2 linked regions of the Homo sapiens genome follow. The protein of the gene in region 1 purifies or fractionates together with the protein of each later gene. This does not show direct contact. Each region holds a gene or a part of one and is shown on either strand. Other genes may lie near its edges.

The links.
Region 2: the proteins of TMEM41B (region 1) and TMEM43 purify together in Homo sapiens (affinity purification with mass spectrometry; 2 studies listed by BioGRID). This does not show direct contact.

Annotation. Positions count from the first base shown.
Region 1 is NC_000011.10:9,302,683-9,308,137, forward strand, and holds part of TMEM41B (transmembrane protein 41B), read right to left. Parts: intron 1-5,455. UniProt on the Homo sapiens protein: Phospholipid scramblase involved in lipid homeostasis and membrane dynamics processes. Has phospholipid scramblase activity toward cholesterol and phosphatidylserine, as well as phosphatidylethanolamine and phosphatidylcholine.
Region 2 is NC_000003.12:14,130,575-14,135,051, reverse strand, and holds part of TMEM43 (transmembrane protein 43), read right to left. Parts: intron 4,231-4,477; coding exon 4,096-4,230; intron 3,473-4,095; coding exon 3,378-3,472; intron 2,507-3,377; coding exon 2,457-2,506; intron 2,190-2,456; coding exon of another isoform or gene 2,187-2,189; coding exon 2,117-2,186; intron 1,314-2,116; coding exon 1,243-1,313; intron 283-1,242; coding exon 161-282; intron 1-160. UniProt on the Homo sapiens protein: May have an important role in maintaining nuclear envelope structure by organizing protein complexes at the inner nuclear membrane. Required for retaining emerin at the inner nuclear membrane.

The DNA.
Region 1 (5,455 bases):
ATCAGCATTATCAGGAAGCTTGCTGGAAATTCAGATTCCCACTGAAGCAAAAATCTGCATTTTAATGATACTCGTGATCTTCATGCACATTAAAGTTTGAAAAGCTAAAATCTGGCCCACTTTTACAAGTAAGAGGCCCAAAGAAGAAGGGTATACTATTTTTTAAAAAAAAATCCTGAGCCAGAGTGGTGGTGGTGTACACCTATAGTCCCAACTACTCAAGAAACTCAGTCAGGAGGATCACTTAAGCACAGAACTTTGATTCCGGCCTGGGCAACACAGTGAGACCCTATCTCTAAAAGGAACCAAATAATGTGAAGTGTATTTCCAAAGCATTTTGTTGTTGTTGTCTGAGAAGGAGTCTCGCTCTGTTGCCCAGGCTGGACTGCAGTGGCACGATCTCGGCTCACTGCAACCTCCACCTCCCAGGTTCAAGCAATTCTCCTGCCTCAGCCTCCCAAGTAGCTGGGATTACAGGCATGTGCCACCACACTGGCTAATTTTTTTTGTATTTTTAGTAGAGACGGGGTTTCACCATATTGGCCAGGCTGGTCCAAGTGATTCCCTTGCCTCAGCCTCCCAAGTAGCCGGGATTACAGACGTGTGCTACCACACCCAGCTAATTTTTATATTTTTAGTAGAGATGGGGGTTTCACCATGTTAGCCAGGCTGGTCTTGAACTCCTGACCTCAGGTGATCTGCCCACCTCGGCCTACCAAAGTGCAGGGATTATAGGCGTGAATGAGTGTGCCCAGTCTGCAAAGCATTTTAATATCTGTTTATAATTTACCTGTAATTTCTGTTGAAATAAGAATTGCTTAGGTTAGTGCTTTGATAATACTAAATATAAATTATTCTTACCTATTCATTAAATTTAGCAAGTTTTCTATAAAAAACTAAATTATCTTTTCCTACTTTCAGTAATCTAAACAATCTAACTTCCCAACTAGTCCCTATTATTCTTTTTCTTTTTTTTTTTTTTTTTTTTTGAGACAGAGTCTTGCTCTGTGGCCCAGCCTCTGTCGCCCAGTCTGGAGTGCAGTGACAGGATCTCAGCTCACTGCAACCTCTGCCTCCCAGGTTCAAGCCATTCTCCCATCTCAGCCTCTGGAGTAGCTGGGATTACAGGCACACGCCACGAGGATCAACTAATTTTTGTATTTTTAGTAGAAACGGAGTTTCACATTGTTGGCCAGGCTGGTCTCGAACTCCTGACGTCAGGTGATCCGCCCACTTTGGCCTCCCAAAGTGTTAGGATTACAGGCGTGAGCCACCACGCCCGGCCTCCAATCAGTCCCTGTTATTCTAACTTTGTTATATTTCATCTTAATCTCAAAAAGGAGATTTGCTCAACTCTTACTTATGAAATTTACTGCAGGAAGGAAGAGGATAATAATATAGTACAAAGGTACCTTCTGATGGAACAATAAACCAAGAATGCCTGTCTCTTAATACTCTAGTTCATTAACCCACAGACGTATTGATATGTATGCTTTTTTGGAACACAGAGAATTAAAAACACACTTTAAACATCTCAGGTAGGTCAAACATGAAAAGGTCTCTGCAGAATCTTGTAATAACAAATACCTAACTGTCATTACATTTATGCTCTGGCTATTACCTAATTCAATACGTATCTTGAGGCCTCCTAATAAGTTATATTCACTCAGAAGTTATATTCTCTAAAAAAAGAAAGCATAATCAGCAAAAAGCAAAAACATCAGGGTGTACTAAATCCAATTGAATAAAAAACGTTGTTTTGGTTTATAAATATAAACCCCATTTATTTATTATTTATTTACTTTTATGAGACGGTGTCTCACTCTGTTGCCCAGGCTGGAGTGCAGTGGTGAAATCATAGCTCACTGCAGCCTTCAACTCCTGGGAGTTGAATGCCTTCAGCTTCAATCCTCCTGCCTCAGCCTCCTGACTAGCTGGGACCACAGGTGTTTGTGACCATGTCTGCTTAATTAATTAATTAATTTTTTTTTTTTGAGATGGAGTCTCACTCTGTCACCAGCCTGGAGTGCAGTGGCGTGATCCTGGCTCACTACAACCTCCGCCTCCTGGGTTCAAGCAATTTTCCTGCCTCAATCTCCCAAGTAGCTGGGACTACAGGCACACGCCACCATGCCCAGATAATTTTTGTATTTTTAGTAGAGATGGGGTTTCACCATGTTGGCCAGGATGGTCTTGATCTCTTAACCTCGTGATCTGCCCCCCTTGGCCTACCAAAGTGCTGGAATTACAGGCGTGAGCCACCACGCCCAGCAATTTTTTGGTTTTGTATTTAGAGACCAGGTCTCACTATTTTGCCCAGGCTGGTCTTGAACTCCTGGCTTCAAGCAGTCCTCCTGCCTCAGCCTCCCAAAGTGCTGGGATTACTGGTATGAGCCATAGAACCGGGCTAGAAAACCTATTTAAACACAAACCGTTTTCACAAGGCTAAAATAGTTATTTTTCTATATATTTTTATTCAATAAAAAGCTATTCAATAAAGTAGGTAAGGAATGAGGGTAATATATATATATAAGTATTGAGTTTTCTGTAGGCTGACATCAAAGCAAAGACACATTATACATGCAAGTAGTGTATATTTTTTCAGGATGTCCATTATGATAATTTATAATTATAGGCCAGGTGTCGTGGCTCACTCCTGTAATCGCAGCACTTTGGAAGGCCACGGTGGGCAGATTGCCTGAGGTCAAGGGTTCGAGACCAGCCTAGCCAACATAGTGAAACCCTGTCTCTACTAAAAATATAAAAAATTAGTCAGGCGTGGTGGCACACCCCTGTAGTCCCAGCCACTGGGGAGGCTAAGGCACAAGAATTGCTGGAACCTGGGAGGTGGAGGTTGTGGTGAGCCAAAGTTGCGCCATTGCACTCCAGCCTGGGCAACAGATATTAATTATAGATGAATTATAGATATTAAACTGTTTTGGAGGCACACTTCACATCATACACTTCTTAAAGGTATGCTACTTTTAAATCCATCTAAAAGTATGCTACTTTTAAATCCAATTAACTTGCCCCAGCCCAGTTTTAACTTACTTTCCTGCTAGAATCAGGTCCAGAGTATAAGAAAAACTAACAAAAATAATTTCATATTATGAGCATCTTTTAAAACCTTCAAAACCATTACTAATTTTTTTTTCTTTTTGGTAGACAGAGTCTACCAAATCTTGTTTTTATAGGTCTACATCTAAATTTATAGTATACACATTTATAATGTGCCTTATGGCCACATTACACACATGTGCCTTTTAGCATTTACAGCTACTTACACCAGCACTTTTCTTTTTTTTTTTTTTTTTGAGACAGAGTCCTGCTCTATCACCCAGGCTGGAGTGCAGTGGTGTGATCTCGGCTCACTGCAACCTCCACCTCCTGGGTTCAAGCCATTCTCCTGCCTCAGCCTCCCAAGCAACTGGGATTACAGGCATGGGCCACCACCCCCAGCTAATTTTTGTATTTTTAGTAGAGACGGGGTTTCACCATGTTGGCCAGGCTGGTCTCGAACCCCTGACCTCAGGTAATCCGCCCACCTCAACCTCCCAAAGTGCTAGGATTACAGGCGGGAGCCACCACGCCCAGCCAGTACTCTGTATTTAGTAACCTCCAAAGCTTCCATCATACTAATTCCCAGTCTGAATTACCCTATTATGTGCTTTTCCAACCTCCTCCCAGGCCAAAGGTACTGTTATAGAAAGCCAGAATTCGCCGGGCATGGCGGCTCACGCCTGTAATCCCAGCACTTTGGGAGGTCGAGGCGGTCGGATCATGAGGTCAGGAGATCGAGACCATCCTGGCTAACACGGTGAAACCCCGTCTCTACTAAAAAAATACAAAAAAAATTAGCCGGGCACAGTGGCGGGCGCCTGTAGTCCCAGCTACTCAGGATGCTGAGGCAGGAAATCGGCATTAACCCGGGAGGCGGAGCTTGCAGTGAGCTGAGATGGCGCCACCGCACTCTAGCCTGGGCGATAGAGCGAGACTCCGTCTCAAAAAAAAAAAGAAAGCCAGAATCACGCTCTTGGCCTACAAGACGTTCAACATGTTTTTCTAACTTCAGTTAGGGATATCACTGGCAAACAGTAATTCTTTTATAGCAGTCCCCAAAAGAGCTATTTCAAGTCACTTTAAGCCTTTGATTTTACCTTCCTTTAACTGCAACCAATGATGCTGCCTCCTACTTTAATGAGCACCCCAATCTCTCCCTCAAGATTTGTTCACAAAATTATCTTCCCTTGCTCCTTTCCCTTCATCTTATCATTAAATGTCAACACACTTCCTTCTATATCTTGCTCTCTGAATTCTTTCTCCATATACTCAACATCTTCAATTTTTCCCTCTTACAAGTACCTTTCCTTTAACTTCCAATATGCATAAATCCATCCTGAAAAATAATTTAACCTTAATGTCCCTCCAGTAGCTCCATAATTCTCCTACTACTTTTACAAAGCAAAATATTCCAATGTCTACGAGATCTTAGGAATGACTCACACTGGTCATCTAGTCCATTAGTTTTCAATATTCAGTGTTTTCTAGATATACTTGATCCCACCACGAACGAAGGAAAAAAAATCCATTTATCCTAAGGACATAAGCTTACAGGCCAACAAGTCTCTTAAGGTCACAAGAATCCACTGTAATATTGTCAGAAATAAACTTTATTTCAACGGTCTTAAACTATTAAAAAAATTAATTGAAAATGGTATTAACATCAAGTATAAATTTAAACAGCTGAAGTATCATAAAATAAAATCTTTTTTTTTTTTTGAGATCGAGTTTCTCTTGTTGCCCAAGCTGGAGTGCAATGGCTTGATCTTGGCTTACCACAACCTCCGTCTCCCAGGTTCAAGCAATTCTCCTGCCTTAGCCTCCCAAGTAGCTGGGATTACAGGCGTGGGCCACCACGTCCGGCTAATTTTGTATTTTTAGTAAAGATGGGGTTTCTCCATGTTGGTCAGGCTGGTCTCAGACTCCCGACCTCAGGTGATCTGCCTGCCTCAGCCTCCCAAAGTGCTAGGATTACAGGCATGAGCCACTGTGCCCAGCCAATAAAATCATTTTTTTAATTTTATTTCGAGTCTTGCTCTGTCACCCAGGCTGGAGTGCAGTGGCGCAATCTCGGCTCGCTGCAAGCTCCGCCTCCCAGGTTCACGCCATTCTCCTGCCTCAGCCTCCCAAGTAGCTGGGACTACAGGCACCACCCGCCACCTCTCCCGGCTAATTTTTTGTATTTTTAGTAGAGACGGGGTTTCACCGTGGTCTGGATCTCCTGACCTCGTGATCCGCCCACCTCGGCCTCCCAAAGTGCTGGGATTACAGGCGTGAGCCACCGCGCCCAGCCTTAAAATCATTTTTTAAAAACACAACAGAGGCGAGACACAGTGGCTCACACATGTAATCCCAGCACTTTGGGAGGCTGAGGTGGACACATCACTTGAAGTCA
Region 2 (4,477 bases), on another chromosome or scaffold:
CCCGTGCCCAGGCTGTGCCGTCACCCAGAGGGCCTCTCCCACTCAGCTGCACTTGGCCAAGTGCAGCTGTGCATGCGACTGAACTGAATCTGCCTGGCGCAGGAACCTGATCCTAGCGCCCTGACCCTCCTATTTGGAGAGCCCAGGCCTCTCCGCACACCTCTGGATACTTGGGATTTTCGCTGTGGTAGAAAAAGTCTCCACGGCGAATGATGTCCACATGAGGGTCCTCCAGCTTGGATAGGCTCAGGGACTTGAAGTTGTCGACTTTGTCGATGAGGCCTGAGGGGACCAGAGTGGTTAGAAACCCAGGGGACCAGGTGAAAACCTCAATCTGCAAAGTCCCTGGCCTGACCCCCTTCCACTGCACCCCTGGAGCCTGCACACGTGGCACTCCCACCTGCAGTGCCTCTTTCTGACTCTGTCTCGTCCACGGCTTCCCCTGGGTTAGACCATCTCCTCCAGGAAGCTTTCCCTGTGCCCTCTCCCACCAAGTCAGAGTGACCACAGCACTGGGAGTGGCCTTAGCCCTTTTCCCTTCCATCAAGGTTACGGCCATCCACGTCCAAGCCTGACTCACCTCCTGGGTTGAGAGCTACTTGAGGGCAGGCCCAGCTGGCACACAGGCACCATCCAGCAACAAAGCACACAGAAAGCGGCCAGGCCAGGCCCAGGATCATCCAGCCTCCCCAGGACTATCTGGGCCCTTGGTATCCTCTCCCACCTTCATGGGTCAGGCCCAGGAACAGAGCCCCAGGGTTACTCTGGCCCATGGTGCCACCTTATCCCTTGCAAGCTTCTCTTTGGAGTCAATGGGGGATGCCTGTGATAAGCTAGTGCCTTCCTGGGACAGGTGGAACTCAGAGAGGGGGAGCCCTAGGCTGAGAGCACTGAGCCACCACATGTCTACTACTAGCCGGAGTCTGCTTGAGGAAGGACTGTCTCAGCAGAGTCTACTCAGCAGACACCGGCACGCAGCAGGGTGAGGATGCATGCCTGAGTCATTCTCTGGAACAACCCAGATTTCAGAGGAACCTGGTAGGATGGAGTGGGGTGGGGGTTTCTACGTCAGCCCTTGCTTCCTGGGGATTCGCCTTCCCCTGGCCCCCAAAGCATGGTGCTGGGAAAGGTGCAGACTGATCCTGTGCCTTTAGCCCTCTGAAGGCTGAGTACTGGGAGCTCCGGCCCTAGGGGGGCCTTGTGCTTCTGGCACGAGCTCCTCTGGAGAGGCCTGAGACTTACCTGACGAGAGGAAAAACCTGCCAATTTGGACAAAGGGGGCTGTTGCCATGAATGACTCCACTGCCATGGCACTGTGGGAGAGAGGAAGCTGTCAGAGATGGGCACCGGTGTGGGAGCTGCCCGGGTCCCTTTGGGTTGTTTGTGCTGGGCAGGGTCCCCACCCGGGGGTTCCTGCAAGTCCAGATTAGCCCAGGCGCAGCAGACATCTTGTCCTGTCCACCCCCAGGGGCCCTGTGCCCCCTCCCCTGGGCTGAGCACCCTCACTCTGTCTCCTGTTCCCCGGAGCTTCCTACCCTCTTGCCTAGACCCCTGCCAGCCTGTCCTGCCCCACCCACTGCTGTCAGATGTATCTTGCATGGACTTTACACCCCTCACTAGCCCCTCCCAGAGCATTCCATCCCAACCATCTTACTGGCACAGCCCAGACCATTGCTGAACAAGGCCTGCTCTCTAGCCACACCCAAGTGTTATGCCCGCCTCACCACTGGCATGCCGTGGAGCTAACCTCCCTCTGCTGAAATCCTGAGAAGCCTGAACAAATGCCGCTGCCTCTGGAAAGCCTGTCCTGATTGTCCTCCCACCCATGGCAAACCATTAACAAAATGCTTCCCCGGCCCCGTGTGTGCAAATCCCCTTAGACGCTTAGTGCAGGCCTTATATTTGTGACTTGTTTGCGGGGAGCTTGTCTGGGGTCAGGGGAGACAAGTCTCTGTGTTCCTGGTGCCCAGCACAGGGCTTGGTCTCAAACCCATGTCCCACATTTTCAACCCACGAGGCAGGATTAACTCAATCCTGTTATTCAGATGAAGAAACTGAGGCTGGAGACCTGCCAGTGTAGACAAAGCTGCACTCAGGCCTTGGGCCTGGCTCTCACCTGGGGTTTTTGTGGCCAATCTCTCGGTCGAAGTTTTTGCTGTTGATGATTTCTGACCTCCATTCAGTGTCTGCTCAGGGAGAGGAATCAACTCAGAGCCCGGGTAGGAGTGGCACGCGGCTGAGACCCACCAGCCCAGCTCCTCCTATCTCACAGCCAAAGGGGTGGGTCAGGGAGCCTCAATGGATGGGTGGGAAAGCAGGGCTCTGAAGACTTGCACCCAGGGATCCTGATGCCTGGTGCTGAATCCTTCCCATGGCCCCACCAACAGCCCTGCTGTCCAGCCACCACTGTGGGCCCCCACCATGGGCAGAGACCACGTAAGGGGCCCAGCACTCACTGTAGGAATACCTCGTCTCCTTCTTCACCTGCCCATCCTCGGTGTACTCCCTGCAGGGAAAGCAAAGCAGCCACGGGGGTTAGCCTCGTCGCCCCAGGCAGTCTAATCTCTAAGCATCTGAGCAGGAAGCAACCTCAGGGCTACCAGATCAGACTCCCCAGATACGGCAGATGCCTTCTCTACACCAGCCCCAAGACAGGGCACTCACTCCTGACAGACAGCCAGCTCCTGCCCTCCAAGGCGCTACCTGGAGGAAAGCGCTCTCCCATCCTGAGCTGAAATCTGCCCGCACTGGCCTTACACCAAGGGGCCCAGCCCTGCCCTTTGGGCTCAGAGATCTGGCTGCATCCTCTGCTCCAGGACAGCCCTGCGGGGGGCCTCTTGAAGCTGCCCTTCTCCTGCTCCTCCCACCACCTCCCCACCTGTCGGTCACAGTCCATATGATTCAGGTGGGGCTGAACCCACCCCCAGCTCCAGGTGACCCCAGCCCTGATCAATGAGAACCTGCCCTGGGACTCCTGTCAGAAACGATAAGCTGTAAGTAGAGCAAAGATGGGACCAACACAGCTGATGGGAAGGCTGAACACAGAGAGATGCAGTGGGGTCTCGGGGTTGACATGCTGATCCTAATGACAGTGTTTCAGGCCTGCTCCAAGTCATGCTTCAAGCTTGTGCATCTCTGGAACTTCCCAGATGTGGGAGCAACTCAATCCCCCTTTCCTCCTGGAGCCACTCTTCACTGGATTTTTGCCACTTCCAAATCACTGGCTATTAATTTGGGGATCATTTCACACTTTTCTGATAGGAAGATGTTATACTTGAGTTTCAAAGGTATCAAAATGAAAGACATCTGCATGTTATCCTGACACCTACACTTCACTCCTCCTTTACCCCAACAGAGTTTTCACCCCAACAGCTCACCTGGACTCCTCAGTTTCTACCCATTGGTACATCTCCACGTGCCTCCGCAGTTTCACAGCCGGAAGATGGACCCCATAGTTTGGATCAGACAAAAGCTTCAAACAGAATCAAAGAAACCAAAAAAATAAAGGATAACATTCACGTCAGCCCAGAAAGCCTGGCTCAGGGGAAGCTGGACTGGAAGAGGAAGAAATAGAGAAGGGGACAAGGGTGGAGAGCCCTACACTGCTTTGCAGGGGAGAATCGAGGACACTCCCTGTCCCAGGTTCTTTACACACAGTGCCTGTGACTGTGACCCTCACAGTACAGGCCTGGGCTGCATGGCCCAATGGCATGGTGCCAACAGCGTACAGGGTGTTCAAATAACAGGAAAGCTCTGGTGCCCAGGGTAGTTTTGTGGCCTTGCACTGGACACACATGGTCATCAGAGTCATGAGAGCACCTCCCTGAGTGCCAGCCACTGTACCAAGGCGTTAGTTACCTAATCTCACCAAATCCTCAAGGCTGGCCACAAGCTTGTAACCATTACCGTCCCCATTTTATACACGAAGACACTGAGACTCAGGATAGACAAGTCCACACAGCTGCTGAGTGGTAAAGTCGGGAATCACTCCCATGTGTGACCATCTCCAAGGCCCATGCTTTCAAATCCTCAGCCAGACAACATCCAGGATGAGCCCCGAGCCACTGGCAGGTCAGCATCCCCTGCCAAACCTACCTTGGATGTCCGTAAGGCGCCAATGATGTGCACCAGCCTTCCTTCATTCTCCGGAGCCACACTGTGGATGCTGTCGGGAGACACCACAAGCGAGAGCCCCTCAGCCAATGAGGTTGCCGTCTTCAATGCGCGGCCCTGGGAGCAAAGGGGAGTGGGGATTTCAACAGCTCAGGGGTGGCTCAGCATGACTGTGCTTGTTGCAAAGTATTAGGGTAGGATGGGGCCTCCGGGAGCGCTGAGACCCATCTCCCCACCGTACAGTTGGAAAACTGAGGTCTAGCAAGTGGAGAGTAAGGACTGGAACCCAGATTCCTGCTTTCCCAGGGAGACTTCTTCCTACTGCCCCATTGGTTCCCACTAGCCCCCACCAATCTTAGCACTG